2 separate regions of the Homo sapiens genome follow, and region 2 is linked to region 1. The links come from fine-mapping of genetic effects on gene expression. A gene starts in region 1. The other region holds a variant in brackets. All regions are shown on one strand. Distances are between the middles of the regions.

Evidence for each region. PIP is the estimated chance that this variant, and not a neighbour inherited with it, causes the effect.
Region 2: its variant is fine-mapped to the expression of DNAJC30 in whole blood (INTERVAL, PIP 0.96).

Annotation. Positions count from the first base shown.
Region 1 is chr7:73,678,517-73,687,455 of GRCh38, reverse strand. DNAJC30 (DnaJ heat shock protein family (Hsp40) member C30) reads left to right here and starts at 4,003. Exons shown (of 1, transcript NM_032317.3): 1 at 4,003-6,538. The coding sequence starts at 4,033. The coding sequence ends at 4,713. BUD23 (BUD23 rRNA methyltransferase and ribosome maturation factor) reads right to left here and starts at 3,859. Exons shown (of 12, transcript NM_017528.5): 1 at 3,783-3,859; 2 at 3,652-3,689; 3 at 725-820; 4 at 556-638; 5 at 361-457. The coding sequence starts at 3,830. RefSeq lists enhancers at 1,452-2,301, 2,302-3,151, 4,082-4,251, 4,492-4,581.
Region 2 is chr7:73,709,946-73,718,884 of GRCh38, reverse strand. All of the region lies in intron 1 of STX1A (syntaxin 1A), which reads left to right. MIR4284 (microRNA 4284) reads right to left here and starts at 7,568; the gene lies at 7,488-7,568. RefSeq lists an enhancer at 2,907-3,438. The variant T/C (reference allele first, on the strand shown) is at 4,788.

The DNA.
Region 1 (8,939 bases):
AAAATACAAAAATTAGTTGGGTGTGGTGGCGTGCTCCTGTAATCTCAGCTACTTGGGAGGCTGAGGCAGGAGAATCGCTTGAGCCTGGGAGGCGAAGGCTGCAGTGAGCCAAGATCACACCACTGCACTCCAGCCTGGTGACAGAGCAAGACTCCATCTCAAAAAAACAAAAAATTAGCTAGGTACGGTGGTGTGGGCCTGTAGTCCCAGCTACTCAGGAGACTGAGGTGGGCAGATCACCTGAACCCAGGAGGTGGAGGCTGCAGTGTGAGCCATAATCACAGACACTGCACTAGAGCCTAAGTGATAGAGTGAGACCCTGTCTCTAAATAAATAAAAGCAGGAATTAAAGACCCTCACCTGATGCAACCATCAAATGTGCCTGGCTTGAATGGGATGCCCTGGCCCATATCCCCCAGCAGCAGGTCTCCCTCTATCTCTCGGTCCACAGCCTCATCTACATTAGAGAAAAGGCAGTCAGAGAAAGAGAAATACCTGTGGCTTCTCCACACCCATCAGGGTAATCCACCCTGGTGCCAGACAGGACATACTTACCCAGCATGGCAGGGCTGATATCCAGGCCCACCCAATAGTGCCCTTCATCTGACAGATAACTTCCACTCAGCCCAGTGCCACAGCTGGAAGACATGACCAGACACTCAGGGTCAGTTTACAAAGACACTTCACCACCTTAGACAATCTGAACCAGGCCCCAGAATCTCACCCAATATCCAGCAGGTAACAGGGCTTATTCTCTGGCAGATAAAGAAGCTCCAATGCTCGCCCAGCCATCCTGGTCTGGATATCAATCATCCGTGAGCTGGTAAGGCAGAAACACAAGTGGACATGGTAAAGGAGTTCTGGGTGAATACTTCCCCCAGACCAAAAAACAAAAAACAAAAAAAAGCCAAGTTAAAAACAAACAAAAAACGGATCAATCATCCCGAGGTACTCTTTTCTGACCCCTTCTAAGTTGGGATCAACAAATTCAACCATTCGAAAGTGACCCCAAAAATTCCATGTAATTCAGGACCATGTTATTTTGTGGTAACAACTTATCATTGCACCAGCTGCCAAGCAGATGTGTAAAAGCAAATCACTTAGCTAGTAATAAACAACCACTGGGATCTGCAACTCTATTAGGCTGGGCTGCTCTAGCACTTGTTGAAAACATTTTCTCCAAAAATTATTCTCCATAGTTTCTCTCATCTAGAAGGATCAACAATGCACAAAAACCTACAGCAGCACTGTCTGTGAGAAACAGAATGTGAGCCACGCATGGCTTCCCAATAGCCAGTCAAGAAGAAACTTAAAGAAACAGGTAAAAGAAACTGGAGTCATATTTTTTTTTTTTTTTGAGACGGAGTCTTGCTCTGTTGTCGCCCAGGCTGGAGTGCAGTGGCGCGATCTCGGCTCACTGCAAGCTCCGCCTCCCGGGTTAATGCCATTCTCCTGCCTCAGCTTCCCCAGCAGCTGGGACTACAGGCGCCCGCCGCCACGCCCGGCTAATTTTTTTTTTTGCATTTTCAGTAGAGACGGGGTTTCACCATGTTAGCCAGGATTTCTCTATCTCCTGACCTTGTGATCCGCCAGCCTCGGCCTCCCAAAGTGCTGGGATTACAGGCGTGAGCCACCGCGCCCGGCCTCTGGAGTCATATTTTTAACCCCATATATTTAATAACGTATTTCCATTAACTCAATATGTTCAAAATATCACTTCAACATATAATCGACATAAAAAGTCATCAGCAAGGACCGGGCCTGGTGGCTCACGCCTATAATCCCAGTACTTTGGGAGGCCAAGGCGGGTGGATCCCGTGAGCAACTTACCAGATCCCTGGGCAACATAGCAAAACTCCCTCTCCACAAAAAAATTACACAAACTAGTCGGGCGCGAGGAGGCGCGCCTGTAGTTCCAACTACCCGGGAGGCGAGGTTGCAGCCACTGCAGCACTTCGGCCTGGGCGATAGAATGAGAGCCTGTCTCACACGCACAAAAAATTATCAAGCTATTTCAGCCGGTGTGGTGGCGAGTGCCTCTAGTTCCGGCTGCTGGGGAGGATGGCTTGAGGCTGCAGTCGGCAGGGATCATGCCATGGCACTCCAGCCTGGGCAATAGAGAGACCCTGTCCCTAAAAAAAAGAAACAGTATCCAATAGCTATTTATTTATTTATTGAGTCAGGGTCTCACTCTGTCGCCAAGGCTGGAGTGCAGTGGTGCGATCGCAGCTCACTGCAACCTCTGCCTCTCAGGTTCAAGTGATTCTCCTGCCTCAGCCTCCCGTAGGCCCGGCTAATATCTGTATTTTCAGTAGAGACGGGATTTCACCATGCTGGCCAGGTTGGTCTCGGAATTCCTGACCTCAGGTGATCCGTCCACCTCCGCCTCCCACAGGGCTGGGATTACTGGTATGAGCCATAGCGCCCGGCCAGTAACCATTTACTGAAATAGGGCTAGTCTCTCAGTGAGAGAGCACGGAAAAACCACAAAGTATCTTTTTTTTTTTTTTTTTTTTTTTTTTTTTTTTTTTTGAAACAAAGTCTTGCTCTGTCGCCCAGGCTGGAGTGCAGTGCCGTGATGTCGGCTCACTGCAACCTCCCCCTCCCGGGTTCAAGCTATTCTCCTGCCTCAGCCTCCCGAGTAGCTGGGGTTACAGAAACCCGCCATCGCGCCCGGCTAATTTTTTCCATTTTTAGTAGAGCTGGAGTTTCGCCATGTTGGCCAGGCTGGTCTCGAACTCCTGACCTCAGGTGATCCGTCTGCCTCAGCCTCCCAAAGTGTTGCGATTACAGGCGTGAGACACCGCGCCAGCTTCCCCCCGCCCCCATCCCCCCCCCTTTTTTTTTTTTTTAACGACTCGAGGTGCGCTGGCTCACGCCTGCAATCCCAACAGTTCGGGAGACGAAGGCGGGAGGATCGCTTGAGCCCTGGGCTTGGGCCACCTTGGGCAACACAGCGAGACCCCATCGCAACAAAAATTTACAAAAAAAAGCCAGGCGTAGTGGCGCGCGCCTGTGGTCCCAACTACTGGAGAGGCAGAGGGGAGCCACCACACCCGGCTAATTTTTTTATTACTTGCGGAGACGGGGGCTCGCTACGTTGCCCAGGCTGGTCTCGAACCCCTGAGCTCAAGCGATCCTCCCGCCTCAGCCTCCCAAAGTGCTGCGATTGCTGAGATTACACGCGTGAGCCACTCCCACCTGGCTACAACTCAGTAGTTATACAAACTACCCTCTATGAAATTCAGACAATAATACACCAACTGCTGTCTTGGAGATTTATTGGCAACAAGGCGCCACGATAAGCATCCTACGGCCATTACTTCCTTCCCCCCACCAGGACTGACCCCTCGCCCGTACCCACCGCCCAGCGCCTCTTTTACCACATGTTTAGGACAAATTGTCACATTCGACTTTGAAAACCACCCACGGAAAGCAAGCGCGATCACCCCTACCTCAACGCTGAGGTACCGAGGCCCAGAGAGGTCGGCAACTTAAAGTTGATTTACCAGAGACAGAAATCGGCACCCACCCGGGTCCTTCCCTTCCCGCACCCCCAAATTCTACGGCCTTTCCGGGCAACGCCAGCAACAGGGGCAACTTGCCGCTTCCCGACCCCCGGACGCCCCGCAGTATTCAGGCTCCCCTCACTTGCGAACGTATTTCCGGGCTTCTGTCTCGTCATAAAACTGCGAAAAAGAGAAAATGGCATGTAGAGGAATAATTCAGACGCGGTGGCCGCAGAAGTGGGGAGAGGGGTGTCCGCGGGCCCCGGGACTTACCAGCTCTGGGGGTCCGCCATGCTCCGGACGCCGGCCGCGGGACGCCATTCTCACGCCTCAGCAGCACACCTGCGACTGGCGCCTGCCGGCACCCGGTTTTTATGTCATCAGCCCGGCGACCGCTTAGTAATACGCATGTTCCACCCCCACGACCGCCCCGCCCCCCCCTTTACGTGACTGGCCACAGGGCGACCAACCGACTCCTCTCATTGGCCGGTTTCTCTTGCACCGCCTGCCGAATCAATTCAACATGGCAGCCATGCGCTGGCGATGGTGGCAGCGGCTGTTACCTTGGAGGTTGCTGCAGGCCCGTGGCTTTCCACAAAATTCTGCACCCAGCCTGGGCCTAGGAGCGAGGACTTATTCCCAGGGCGACTGCTCGTATTCGCGCACGGCGCTGTATGATCTGCTCGGCGTCCCCTCCACAGCCACGCAGGCCCAAATCAAGGCGGCTTACTACCGTCAGTGCTTTCTCTACCACCCGGACCGCAACTCCGGGAGCGCGGAGGCCGCCGAGCGCTTCACGCGCATCTCCCAGGCCTACGTGGTGCTGGGCAGTGCCACCCTCCGTCGCAAGTATGATCGCGGCCTACTCAGCGACGAGGACCTGCGCGGACCTGGCGTCCGGCCCTCCAGGACGCCCGCACCCGACCCCGGCTCGCCGCGTACCCCGCCGCCCACCTCTCGGACCCACGACGGTTCTCGGGCCTCCCCCGGCGCCAACCGCACGATGTTCAACTTTGACGCCTTCTACCAGGCCCACTACGGGGAACAACTGGAGCGGGAACGGCGCCTGAGGGCCCGGCGGGAGGCCCTTCGCAAACGGCAGGAGTATCGGTCCATGAAAGGCCTCCGCTGGGAGGATACCCGAGACACGGCTGCCATTTTCCTCATCTTTTCAATCTTCATCATCATCGGCTTTTATATTTAATCGGAGAGAGAAGGGAAGGGGAGTGTCCCCAGCCAACCCCCCAGAAACGGCCTTTTTTCCTGCCTCTGAACCCTTGGCCATTGATAGTCTACCTTTGCTGGGATCCGAAGGAACTGTACTCCCCCTGCCCTCCCCGACCCGCCCAGCTTAGCCGATGACCTGCACATCGCTCCACTGTGGTCCAGAAAAGGAGGCCTTTCGATGTCTGAGAAAGAGGCCCCACGCTGTAGAGTCCCGAAAGCCCAGGAGTGAAGGGGGTTCCTGGAGTCTCTAGGGTGCTTCTTCCAGAGTCTGTCTTCTTGCTTCCAGATGTGGTCAACTTCTGGAACACTCGCTGTAGCTTTATTGTTTAGCCCCAAGCAAGATTTATCTCCTCCTGCCCCGCATGTGTATGGTGGGCCTCTGTAACCTTGAAATGTGCAATGTGACCAATTGTTGACTACCAAAAGAAAAGGTCTGGGGTTGTACGAAACTTGTCTTTCTGTGACTTCCCCAAGCCGCAGGTGAGACCTGGTCCAGGGTAAGAATGGGATCGGTGGAGAGCCTGTCGTTCCTCCCGCTAAGGTCAGCCCCCTGGGGCACTCCTCCTTATGTTGATAGCATGTAGGAGTGAGAAAAAGTCATTGAGCATAAGGAATGAGTGTTCCTGTGCCCATATTTAATGTGTGACCTTGGAGAAGTTACTCTGTAGGCATGACAGCAGAGGAGAAAATCATTTGGCATCTTGAGGTCTGTCATGCTTTATTATCCATAGTTTTTGGGGGGTTTTTTGTTTTGTTTTGTTTTTGAGATGGAGTCTTGCGCTCTGTTGCCCAGGCTGGAGTGCAGTGGTGCGATCTTAGCTCACTGCAACCTCCACCTCCCGGGTTCAAGCGATTCTCCTGCCTCAGCCTCCTGTGTAACTGGGATTACAGGCTCCCACCACACCTGGCTAGTGTTTTGTATTTTTAGTAGATACGGGGTTTCACCATGCTGGCCAGACTGAGGTCTCGAACTGCCGACCTCAGGCTGTCTGCCCGTCCAGCCTCCCAAAGTGCTGGGATTGCAGGCATGAGCCACTGCTCCCGGCCCTATTATCCATAGTTCTAATCCACAGGGATTACAGCATAATGCTAGCAGGGCCAGGTTCATCCTTGAGACAGTGTGGCTGGCTGTCACCTGGTCCTCCCTTTACCAGCCAGCCCCATTGCACACTGTGCAGCCCATCCCCTCCCAGAAATAGAGTGACAAACTCTGCACTTAAGTCCCCTGTTTCTGTTTAACTTGCAGTGCTTATCACAGGCCCTTCCTTAATTTTTTAAACAAGGCTGCTTGAGGCTGGGGTAAATTTTGGGGCTTTGGGAGTACACAGGACTACTGAGGGACGGGGAGTTGGTGGCTTGGTGTTCATGGTGGAGACTTGGTTCTTTACGCAGAGCAGGCTAAAGGCGTGTTTTTTCTGCTCTGTTTCTAATTCATGTTAAGTAGTTGGTCATCACTTTGGTCAGAGCTGCTGCTGAAGCTCTCTTAACTGTGAGTCACTGGACGTTGGCAGGGAGTTGGCTGTGAGATTGTAGGTGCTCAAGTGTTTCTGTTCGGGACTGAGTGTGAATCTGTAAAAGGGGAAAATCCTCGCAAGAGGTCTACGAGAAGGATGAGGGCCCAAGTCTAGGGTCTAAACAAAGCCAGGAGTGGTTTGGTATATTACTGAGTGCAATCATTGCGTGCCATTCCTGCACTCAATGTATTGTGTAAAATCCTTAGGTAAAATGGGATAAACCCACAGCTGGTCCTACTTGGCCTCTTGAAAACCATTCCATCATTGTGCCAATCTAGCCTGAAAAGGAAAAAAAAAAAGGGAAACCATTGATTGTCTCTTGCCTCGGAGGTTGGGGGTATGCCCCTACTCCAGGCTTTGCAGTGATCATATGATGCAGTAATGAAGATCTGGGGCCTGGCACAACACTTTGGGATCCACCCAAGGCGGGTGGATCACTTGACCTCAGGAGTTGGAGACCAGCCTGGGCAACACGGCAAAACCCCATCTCTACAAAAATCACAAAAATTAGCCGGGTGTGGCAAGTGCCTGTAGTCCCAGCTACTCAGGAGGCTAAGGTGGGAGAATCGCTTGAGCCTGAGAGGTCGTGGTTGCAGTGAGCTGCGATCCTGCCACTGCATTCCAGCCTGGGCTACAAAGCTAGACCCTATCTCAAAAAAAAAAAAAAAGAAAAAGAAAAAAAAGATTTGAGCCCAATCTGGTTCAGACCTGTTTGGCTCAGTGAGCCTGGACTTGGGGGAAGGGGATATGTACTTTTTAAAAGAACATTTATTGTTACTATGTTTCATATTTAGAAAACAGGACAGAGACTTTTTTCTGGAAAAACAAAACTGCAGCAAGTGGAGTTTCTTTTTTCTGGAAAAACAAACTGCACGAAGTGGAGTTTAGCAAAATGTTCTGAAACTAGTGCTTCTCAACCAGTAAAGCAGGCACGACAGAAACAGTGGGGCAAGGGCTTTTTGTTCTAGTGAAACAGGTGGCCTCCTTTCGATGTGGGTTTGTAAAGCACTAGTGGTCTAATAGCATGGGCTCCTTGAGATAGACCTCTGAAGTTTGTTTTCTCAGTCAAGATCCCAGCCAGGAACGTTCCCTGTGAGCCCCCGAATCTGGGGTACATAGAAAATTCCAGAAGGTTCAGACTGGGGGTGGGTCCAGACTAAGGTAAACTTCTGGGACATTCCATGAAACTCTAAGCAAAGTATTCTATAAGGTTTACTAACCATCATCCAATCCTAAGCCTCTCCCCTGACTCAGCACAAGGCCTACTCCGTAATGTCATCCCTTTATGCCTCAGGGTTTTGTAGGCCAGAGCTAATGCCTGAGGGACCCCACTCCCTGCCTGCCCTGAAACTGAGCCTGTGCTCTTCATGGAAAGGAAAATGTGTGGGAGGCTTTTTGAAGGACCCCCAAAAGGTTCCCATGGTCACATTTTCCCCCCACCCACTCAGATTGGCTTGAGTCTTTTCTTTCTCTGCTGCTACCTGGCAAGTGGAGGCTGAACTCGGCCATGACCTTAGCCCCTGCCTTCTAGGGGCTATTCCATAATTCCTGGTTGTGGAGGATGGCTCAGACATGCCCAGCCTTAATCCTTTTTCTTTTTCACAAACTGAAACAAAACTCCCTAGAAGTTTGGACCTAGGATGGGAGAATAGGGTAAAGGGGCCCAGCCTGGCCCAGGCTGTGCTCAGTGGGGTGGGGAGGGGGTTACTGGTATAGCACGAGGCCGAGTGAGCCACAGGCGTGGTTCCTAAATGGGGAGACAGAGGCCACAAGACAGGAACCAAAGGCGCACAGGTCTAGGTAATTGTGGTGGTGTCTTTGGGCTTGAATGGGACTTTATTTCTCCTGAGCCAAACTGCTTTTTCCCTTCTGTTGCCCTTTATTTATTGCTGGGTGAGATGACCCTTTACAGATCCCAGTGTTGAGGAAGTAGGCTTTCTCCCTCTTCCTTCTGAGGTTCCGGCATTTCATTCATTGAGTGCACCTCTGTATGAGCCAAATTGATTAGGAATAGCTTACCTTAGGCCACAGAGCTGTCCTACTGGGTCACGATTGACTTGGAGTGGCCACCAACACACCCTTTTTTGGAAATGGAAGAGGTCTGTGTTTCAAACTGTTGGGCTTCCTGGAAGGTCGCCAGACCCTGTGCAAACAGGCTGAGAGAGGGACGGCTGATAAGTGGTGGTGCTACCTCAGTCCACACTCTGGAATTCAGTGCACTAGAAAAGCGGGCCCTGTCCTGGCCTTTGCCTCCTCTCAGTTCCTCAGCGCCATGATGAAGTCACATGCTGCCACCTGCCCATGGGGAAGATCATGAGGGAAAGCCCAGCACAATGGCACACACCTGTGGTCCCAGTTACTTGGGAGGCTGAGGCAGGAGGATCGCTTGAGCCCAGGAGTCCAAGACTAGTGTACAAAGATCTCGCCTATGAATAGCTACTGCACTCCAGCTGGGCAACACGCAAGACCTCATCTCTAAAAAGAAAAACAGGCCGGGTACGGTGGCTCACCTCTGTAATCCCAGCACTTTGGGAGGCCAAGGCGGGCGGATCACCTGAGGTCAGGAGTTCGAGACCAGCCTGACGAACATGGAGAAACCCCGTCTCTACTTTTAAAAAATACAAAATTACCTGGGTGTGGTGGTGCATGCCTGTAATCCCAGCTACTCGGGAGGCTGAGGCAGGAGAAT
Region 2 (8,939 bases), 31 kb before region 1:
GGTTCCTTGCGACTTGGATCTATTTTTCTACCTGTATCTGGGAAACCCCTGGGGTGTGGCTCCTGGGGCGGGGTTTGGGGGGAGTAGGAGGATGCACAAACGTTCTGAGTCAGAGCCCACCTTCTCCCAGCCCAGAGACCCCTGCAGCCTGCGTGGGTCCCCTTCCCCTGGCCTCTGCCCTTAGGGATGAGGAGCCCAGGAGGATGGTGACCGGGAGTGGAGGACAGCGACGGAAATGAAGCCTCTCTGGGTGTGTCGGGGAGGGGGGGTGGATCAAGGCTCAAGACTAGATTGAGTCTCATCTGGTCATCTGGTCCCCTGGCTGGCCACCTGGCTGGCAGCCCTGCCTGCTGATCCCTGGGAGCACCCCCCACCCCGCTCCCTGGGCTAGGAACTAGAACCCTAAGGTCCCCTCCTATGGAAAATGTCAAGTGTCCTTTGGGCATTTGACCCCACGGCTTGTCTTCTCCACCCAGAGGCTCCCTGAGTTGGAGCCTGTCTGCCCCATTATGTCATGGTTGCCTCCTGGGCATCCTGGAGCCGGGACCTGGGCTCCCCTGCCTTCATGTCCCCCACTTGCTCTGGCACCACGGCCTCCACTTTGCCTCCAGACCTGTTATTCCTGGCCGAGCGCCCAGCCCCTGGTGTAAACCCCATGAGGTTTCAAAGGAAGAAGATGGTCCCTCAAGTCGCATATGGGCTCTAAACACTTCCCCCGCGGCCCCTGTGGTTGCCCTCAAGTTTCCTGAGCTCCGTTGAGTCAGAATGAGTGTTTTCCTGGTGACGGATGGCTGTGTGGTGTAATGTGCTGATGTTTAGGCGCCTGGTAGGTTACCTGAGGGTGTGTGTGGGAACCAAGTGGTCAGGGGAACCATGGGCCCCTACATAGGATAATAGCCTCTGGCATGTCAGCCTTCATCCCCCTAGCTGAAGGGGAAACTGAGGCACAAAAGAAACACGGCTTGCCTGCTAGAGGGAGGGGTGGTAGAAAAGGGCTTTGCCTCATCCCTGAAGATAGTCAGACTCAGGCCTGGCTGACACTGGGGGACAGCCAGTGGAGCTGGGGTTGTGAAGCGTTTGAACCCAGATCTTTTTGCTCTGATGTCTGTCTCTGTTACTACCTCCTCGCCCCCTGATTAGATGGTGAAGCCAGGCTTTGCTTTGAATGGTCTGAGGCTTCCGCTCCAGACACCCCCACCCTCCCCACACAAGGCATTCAGAGCCCAGGGAGGCTGTACCCATTGCTGGGTGGCCCTGCCCAGGGAGGGCTTTCTAGCAGACAGGTGGACGGCTGGCAGGCAGGAGCCCACCCGGGGTGGGGTGAGACAGTCAGTCTTGGTGGGGCCACTGTTCCCACAGGCTGCTTTCCCTCTGGACCTAGGGTTCCCATCTGTGAAGTGGGGATGGGAAAGCCTAGAATTCAGTTTCTCGGGACGAGAAGCAGGGCTACAGGTCTCCTGACTCCAGCTCCACATTTGTAGGAGGCCTGAAGCCCCAGGAGTCAGAATTTTCAGCCCAGAATCCCCAGAAAGGAAGAGGCCAGCACTGGCTGAGCTGGACTGGGCTGGACTGGGCTGGACTGGGGCGGGCTGGGCTGGGCTGGGCTGAACAGAGATGGTGCTGGGGACAGCGGCTGTGCACCGCTCCCAGCCCTCCCTCCCTCCCTCTTCCTCCTCCTCCTCCCTCTTCTTTCTCCTTCTCCCCCACCCAACACCACCACATTTGGAAGGAGGCGAAGAGAGCTTATTTATAAAAGTCACACTTGGGGAAGGAGCTGGCGCGTTTCCTCACTCTGCAGGCCCGGCCCAGCCCTCCAGCCTTCTCCAGCCTTCTCCAGCTCCCAACTCTCCCTCTGCAGATGGGGAGTGAAGGGGGTCACTGGGGACTAGCCAGGGGGCCTCAATGCTGTCGCAGTCCCTCAGAGATCAGAAAGGCCACTTGCAGGTTACAGGTAACAAAGAGAGACCGAAGACAGGGCCAGGGTCACACAGCCAGGGAAAGACTTTTAGGTTAGAGCATCCCCAGGAGCCCCACTCAGGCTGTAGCTGCCTCCTCCCCTCAACTCAGAGACTCCCTGATTTTCTTCCTGGGGACTTTGCAGAGCTGACCTTTCTCCCTGGGCCCAGAACATGTATTTGTCTATGTGCCAGGTCATGTGGGACAGACACATGGGACCTGTTGCAGGAGGCTGAAGACGTAGCAAGGAGGGAGAGTTGGAGCAGCACAATCCTGGAAGGCTTCCTGGAAGAAGAGACCCTGGGATAGCACAGGAGCAGGAGCTGGATTTGAATAGGAGGAGAGAAGGTGATCCAAAGGAGGGGACAGCTTAGTGAAGGCAGAGAGATTGGAATGCTCAACCAGGAGAGAATAGCAGGTGGTCCTGACAGCTGGTGTCTGGGGCCCCCTGAAGTGCCTTGAGGTCTAGACTAGGGCCCAACTCACTGGAGCAGCCCAGGCAGGCCTGGATGGGAAGGCCCAGGGCCCTGCTTTGCCCATCAGTTTCCCCTTCTCTTTCGTTGCTGGGAAGAGTCTGGCGGTTGGGTGGCAACACCGGGCAGGTTCATCCTTAATCTCCCTCTGCTCATTTCCTCATCTGCAGAATGGAGCCAGTGTTACCTACTTTGCAGAGTGGCAGGCACGAGAGTGTAAGAACAGGAGCCGGACAGGGCTCGCCCGATCCTTCCTCCCATTACGTTCCAGAGGTTTCCCAGCATGAACGATGCATTTGGGTACATTTTCATCTGGGGTGCAGGTGGAACGGCCTCCCGGGACCATCTAGTTCAACCTCCTATCTTACAGATCAGAAAACAGGTCCAGAAAGGGCCAGGTGTTTATCTGAGGTCATGCAGCCTGTGGGGGCAGAGCCTGGCCCCTTCCACGGCCTGAAGCTGCCTCCCTGAGCCACTCTGGGGCCCTGTGAAGGGGCAGGCTCTGCAGGGCGGGGACCTGGTGTACACACAGCTGGAGGCTGGAGACAGGGTGAGGAGGCTCAGATTGCACAGCCGTCTTTCCTGGAGACCCAGCTTGGCCTCTCGCACACCCCTGACTCAGCTCCGGGCCTCTCTGCACTAGTGATATTGACTTTGATTAGTCATTTAAAAGAAGAAGGGAAAAAAATAGCCCTCGAGGCAGACAACAGCCACTGTGCTCAGCAGTGATGAATCAACCTTGCCAGCCTGGTGGCTTCCCCTGGGACACGCCTGGAGGCTGCCTGGCCTCTGCGCCTCTTGGAGGAGTCAGACTATTACATCCAGGAAGGTGTCCTGGAATCCTGGAGTCTCTGCTAGGAGAGACCACCAGGGCTGCCCCACCTCTGCCAGGGGAAGCTCAGGGCATCCAGCTCCCCGTGGTTCCAGCAGGGTCTGTTCTTCCTAGCAGTCTCCATGCTAGGGAGGTAAGGAGCACTCCCTCCCAGCCTTCCTGGTTGGAGGTGGTGTTTTTTGTTGGTTTTTTTTTTGTTTTTTTAGACGGAGTCTCGCACTGTCTCCAGGCTGGAGTGCAATGGTGCCATCTCAGCTCACTGCAGCCTCCACCTCCTGGGTTCAAGTGATTCTCCTTCCTCAGCCTCCTGAGTAGCTGAGACTACAGGTGTGCATCACCATGCCCGGCTAATTTTTGTATTTTTAGTAGCAACGGGGTTTCACCATGTTGGGCAGGATGGCCTCGATCTCTTGACCTCGTGATCTGCCCGCCTCGGCCTCCCAAAGTGCTGGGATTACAGGTGTAAGCCACCACACCCAGCCAATTTTTTTTTTTTTTTTAGACGGAGTCTCATTCTGTCATCCAGGCTGGAGTGCAGTGGCATAATCTTGGCTCACTGCAACCTCCACCTCCCAGGTTCAAGTGATTCTCCTGCCTCATCCTACCGAGTAGCTGGGATTACAGGCATGCACCATCACACCCGGCTAATTTTTGTATTTTTAGTAGAGATGGGGTTTTGCCATGTTGACCAGGCTGTTCTTGAACTGCTAACCTCAGGTGATCCACCCACCTTGGCCTCCCGAAGTGCTGGGATTAAGGCATGAGCCACTGCACCCGGCTACCCCTATAAATTCTGATTCAGTCTCTTTGGGGTGGATCCCTGGAAGCCGTTTTTGTTTTTTTTTTTTAACCCCCCCAAAGGATTCTGGTGCTCGCCCAGCTTTGAGAACTGCTGAATGCAGAACAAAAAAACACCAGGATGTTAGCTGGGCTTGGGGGCTCACACCTGCAGTACCAACTACTTGGGAGGCTGAGGCGGGAAGACTGCTTGAGCTCAGGAGTTTGAGACCAGCCTGAGCAACATAGTGAGACCACCATCTCTACACAAATTTAAAATTAGCCAGGTGTGGTGGCAGGCACCTGTAGTCCCAGCTACTCTGGAGGCTGAGGCTGGAGGATTGCTTGAGCCTGGGAGATCAAGGCTGCAGTGAGCTATGATCTTGCCACTGCACTCCAGTCTGGACAACAAAGCGAGATTCTGTTTCAAAAAAAAAAGAGCTGGGCGCGGTGGCTTACGCCTGTAATCCTAGCACTTTGGGAGACCGAGGCGGGTGGATCACCTGAGGTCAGGAATTCAAGACCAGCCTGGCCAACATGGTGAAACCCCGTCTCTACTAAAAATACAAAAACTAGCCGGGTGTGGTGCGGGTGCCTGTAATCCCAGCTACTCGGGAGGCTGAGGCAGGAGAATCGCTTGAACCTGGGAGGCGGAGGTTGTGGTGAGCCGAGATTGCGCCACTGCGCTCCAGCCTGGGCAACAGAGCGAGACTCTGCCTCAAAAAAAAAAAAAAAAGTGCCAGGACAAA[T/C]TGGATGTTGGTTGGATGGGAGAAGAGGAGGAAGATGGCAGATGTCCTAGGTTTCTGGCTTGGGGTTCTGCGCTAGGCAGTTCAGAGGATGGGGCTCTGGCAAAACAGGTGGAGCCTGGTTTTGGCCAGGAGGCAGGCAAGGTGCCCGTATGATATCTGGGCACATCCGTCCGTAAGACACTTGGGCCTTTGAGTTTGTGCCCCACAGTTCCAGCTGCCACCTGCACAGCGAAGGGTTCCAAGTCCCCAACTCCAATCCAGCCCCCTCTCCAGAGCTGTGAATGCCACTCAGAAAGCATTGGTAGATCCCCAAGGGAGCTGGGCCCTAATTATTCCACAGAAATCTGTGTGTCCACTTTTGTTTTTTTGAGACAGGATCTTGCTCTGTCACCTAAGCTGGAGTGCAATGGCACGATCATAGCTCACTGCAGCCTCGACCTCCAGGGCTCAAGCAATCCTCCCACCTCAGCCTCCTGAGTAGCTGCAATTACAGATGCATGGCACCACGCCCAGCTAATTTTTGTAGCTTTTGATAGAGATGGGGTCTTGCTATGTTGCCCTGGCTGGTCTCAAACTCCTGGACTCAAGTAATCCTCCCACCTTGGCCTCCCAAAGTGCTGAGATTACCGGCGTGAGCCATCATGCTTGGCCACTTTATGTATACAGTGCCCGCCCTGGCCAGCCCAAGACACCAGGAAGACAGCATGCCAGGGTAGCCACATCACCTAGTTACATTTTGGTCAAGAGTGTGTCTGGGCTGGGAAACAGAGGAGGTGAGGGTGGCAGTGGGGCTCTGCCATCCCGCGTCCTTATCAGTTTATTCCGTGTCCAATGAGAACTGATTCCTTATCTGAGTGAATCTGGAGGACATCTCTAGAATGCTGCCACCAGGCTCTAGCTTGGATGTGGATGAGGGTGCAGGGGCGACAGAGCCAGGAGCCATCAGAATCCCACAAACTGAAATAAGCATCAGAACAAATGAAGAAATGAAACAGGAAGAAGGTCCTTCACTCGAACCCCAAATCCACTCCACAGACAGTGGTTGGGAAGGGCTTGGGGCTTTTCTTGACAGGAAATGCTACATGATCACTTATCTGATTCCTGGCTGTATTACTAGAGGTAGATCATATAGAAAGAGGGAGGGGATGGGCCAGATCTTTGGCATTGCCCAGACCACAGTCAGCAGCAGATTCAGTTTGTGTGCTGTATGACAGGAGACAGAGGCACAGTGGAACAACTCTTGGGCAGGGGCTGTAATTTGGGGTCCCTGGGAAGGATCTGAAAGGGAAGGAATACTTAAAAAGAAAAATCTAGGGAGGATGTGGATGCCGCCTTCAAATCTATAGCAGGGGTACCCCAGGGAGAGGGCACCCACAGGTTCTTTATGGCCTGGAACCAAACCACAGGGAAGAGAAGGACTCTAACAGTTGGGGCTGCCCGAGATGGGCAGAGCTGTCTGGGGAAGCTAGTGAGCTCACTGTCACAGGAGGTTTGCAAGCTGAGGCTGGCAGCTGAAGCCAGGGGGACTTTTCAGGTCCCTTAGGGCCTGAGAGTTTTCAGCCATGGCTCCAATAGGAATGTGAATGGCGTGTGGAAGAACAAGGTGCGAGATACTGATTTGGGGGGGCAGGGAGGCTTCTGGAAGGAGGTGGCATCGAGGAAGAAGGGAATGTCACCTTCATGGAATCAGCATCCCGGGCAAAGGGATGTGCCTGGGGGAAGTTGGGGGCAGAGGGTGGATTGTAGGGCCAGGAACCAGTTGTAGGTGTGGGGGAGTGGGGTCTGATCCCAGGGGAGGGCAGCAGGATAAAGAGCAGAGCTGGGGGTGAAAATTCCCAAGAACGAAGAAGTAGAAGGACGTGGGGAGGAAAGGCCCACTTCGCCCATCCCCTCTAGGTTTTGCTTGGAGCTGTGGCTGGTTTGACCATGCCTCAGAGGTCAGGCCCTCAGCCCCCCGACTGGCTTTGGGGCCAATCTCAATGCCACCTCCAGGGTAGACTTGACCTGCGTGCCCCCATCTACCCTGGCCCTGATCTCCCTTTCCCCAGCCCTACCCTCATAGACGGAGGGTCCAGAGGAGGATGCGGGCATCTCTCCTCCCAGCCCTTCTGTTAGAGAAGCTTCCTGGTCCAGCCTTCAGCCTTCTGGGAAGGTAGCAGGTCAGAGCTGGCCGGATGCCTGGAGAAGATCTGCCCTCATTACACAGATGGGCAAGCTGAGGTCAAGAGAGGCACCAGACAGGTGCCAGGGGTCTCTGAGGGCAGGACAGGGGTTCGGTGGGGCTGGCAGTGACGCTCGTCTCTGGCCACGGAAAAGGAGCTGGATAATTCTCCATCCACCCTTTGTCATCTACCCTGATCCTCTGAGCACCAGGGCAGAGAGGGCAGGACACTGAATGGCAGGAGCTCCTGGGGCCACTTCCCAACCTGGCAGCCTGCCCAGGAGGAGGAACTGGGCTCCTCCTGGCAGTGCTCTGCCTCAGTTTCCCTAGGGAGGGCTCCTCTGACTCAACTCCTAGGCCTGTCACGGTCTAAAAGCGTGAAAACGGCTCCTGGATTTTCTGTGTCTGTAGGGAGCTTGGTGGGGGAGGGGGTACCACCTGGTGACAGCCCCAGGCACTCGGTGGGGAGTGGGAACGAGGATTTATTTTAGCTGCTGGGGAGGTGGTACGATATCTTAAAGAGAGGAGGCCCCTCTGAGCCGCCTCTATCAAAGCTCCTAACTACCCCCTCTCCCCATGAGTCCCCACTTTGATGGGGTGATGTGAGCCCCTCACAGAACATGCTCAGGCCGGGCATGGTGGCGGCTCACACCTATACTCCCAGCACTTTGGGAAGCCAAGGTGGGAAGATCACTTGAGCCCAAGAGTTTGAGACCAGACTGGGCAACATAGTTTGACCCTGTCGCTACAAAAAAAAAAAAAAAATCAAAAAGTAGCTGGGTGTGGTGGCATGCATCTGATGCATCTGTAGTCCCAGCTGCTTGGGAGGCTGAAGTGAAAGGATGGCTTGAGCCCGGGAGGTTGAGGCTACAGGGAGTTATGATTGTGCCACTGCACTCCAGCCTGGGTGACAGAGCGAGACCCTGTCTCAATCAATCAATCAGTCCATCCATCAATCAAACAAACATACCTGCCCTGCTTCCCCACTTTTTCTCAGCCCTCCCTCCATGCAGCCAGGTGTCACTGTCCCCATTTCACAGAAGAGTAAATAGAGCCAGAGGGGTTAAGGCCCAGCCTGATGAGTCCCATCAGTTCTCTCAGCCCCTCAACCTCCACCTGCCTCCGTCCTGACGCGAGAGCACCGAGGTGGGGTCAGTGCTGAGCTAGTCAGTGGCCACTCCCGTGAGGCACTCAGAAATGAGGTGGGAACAAGATCAGATGTGGTGGTTCACGCCTGTAATCCCAGTACTTTGGGAGGCCGAGGCGGGTGGATCACCTGAGGTCAGGAGTTCGAGACCGGCCTGGCCAACATAGTGAAACCTGTCTCTACTAAAAATACAAAAATTAGCTGGGCATGGTGGCATGCACCTGTAATCCCAGCTACTCGGGAGGCTGAGGCAGGAGAATTGCTTGAACCCAGGAGGTGGAGGTTGCAGTGAGCCAAGATCACACCACTGCACTCCAGCCTAGGTGACAGTGCGAGACTCTCTCAAAAAATAAAAAAATAAAAATAAAAGAGGTGGGAACAAGCCCTGAGCCCCAGGCTGAGAGACCTCAGTCCCTGCCCCAGGGTGGCCACCCCGGATATCCTTGCCTTGGCTGCAGAGAGAGACCTGGCCTTGCCAGCAGCGTGGGCTGACCCTGGCCAACTGGCGGTATGAGGCAGACAGTAATAATTGTGCGCAGCATGCTGGGAAGTCAGAAGTATGATTACCCCTGCCCCACGATGGGGGTGGCTTTTGTACAGCTGGTCCTGGGACAGTGGAGTGGGGCTTGTAACTGTGGCTGAGGCCTAAGGCAGGACCCAAGCCAAGTGGCAACATGACTGTCCCCTTGTGCCTGCTGGGCCCAGGTCTGGGGACTGGAAGGAGGCAGACCGAGGTCCAATGGCAAGACCGACAGGGAGGCCAAGTGCAGTGGCTCACACCTACAATCCCAGTGCTTTGGAAGGCTGAGGCAGGAGGATCGCTTGAGGCCAGGAGTTCAAGACC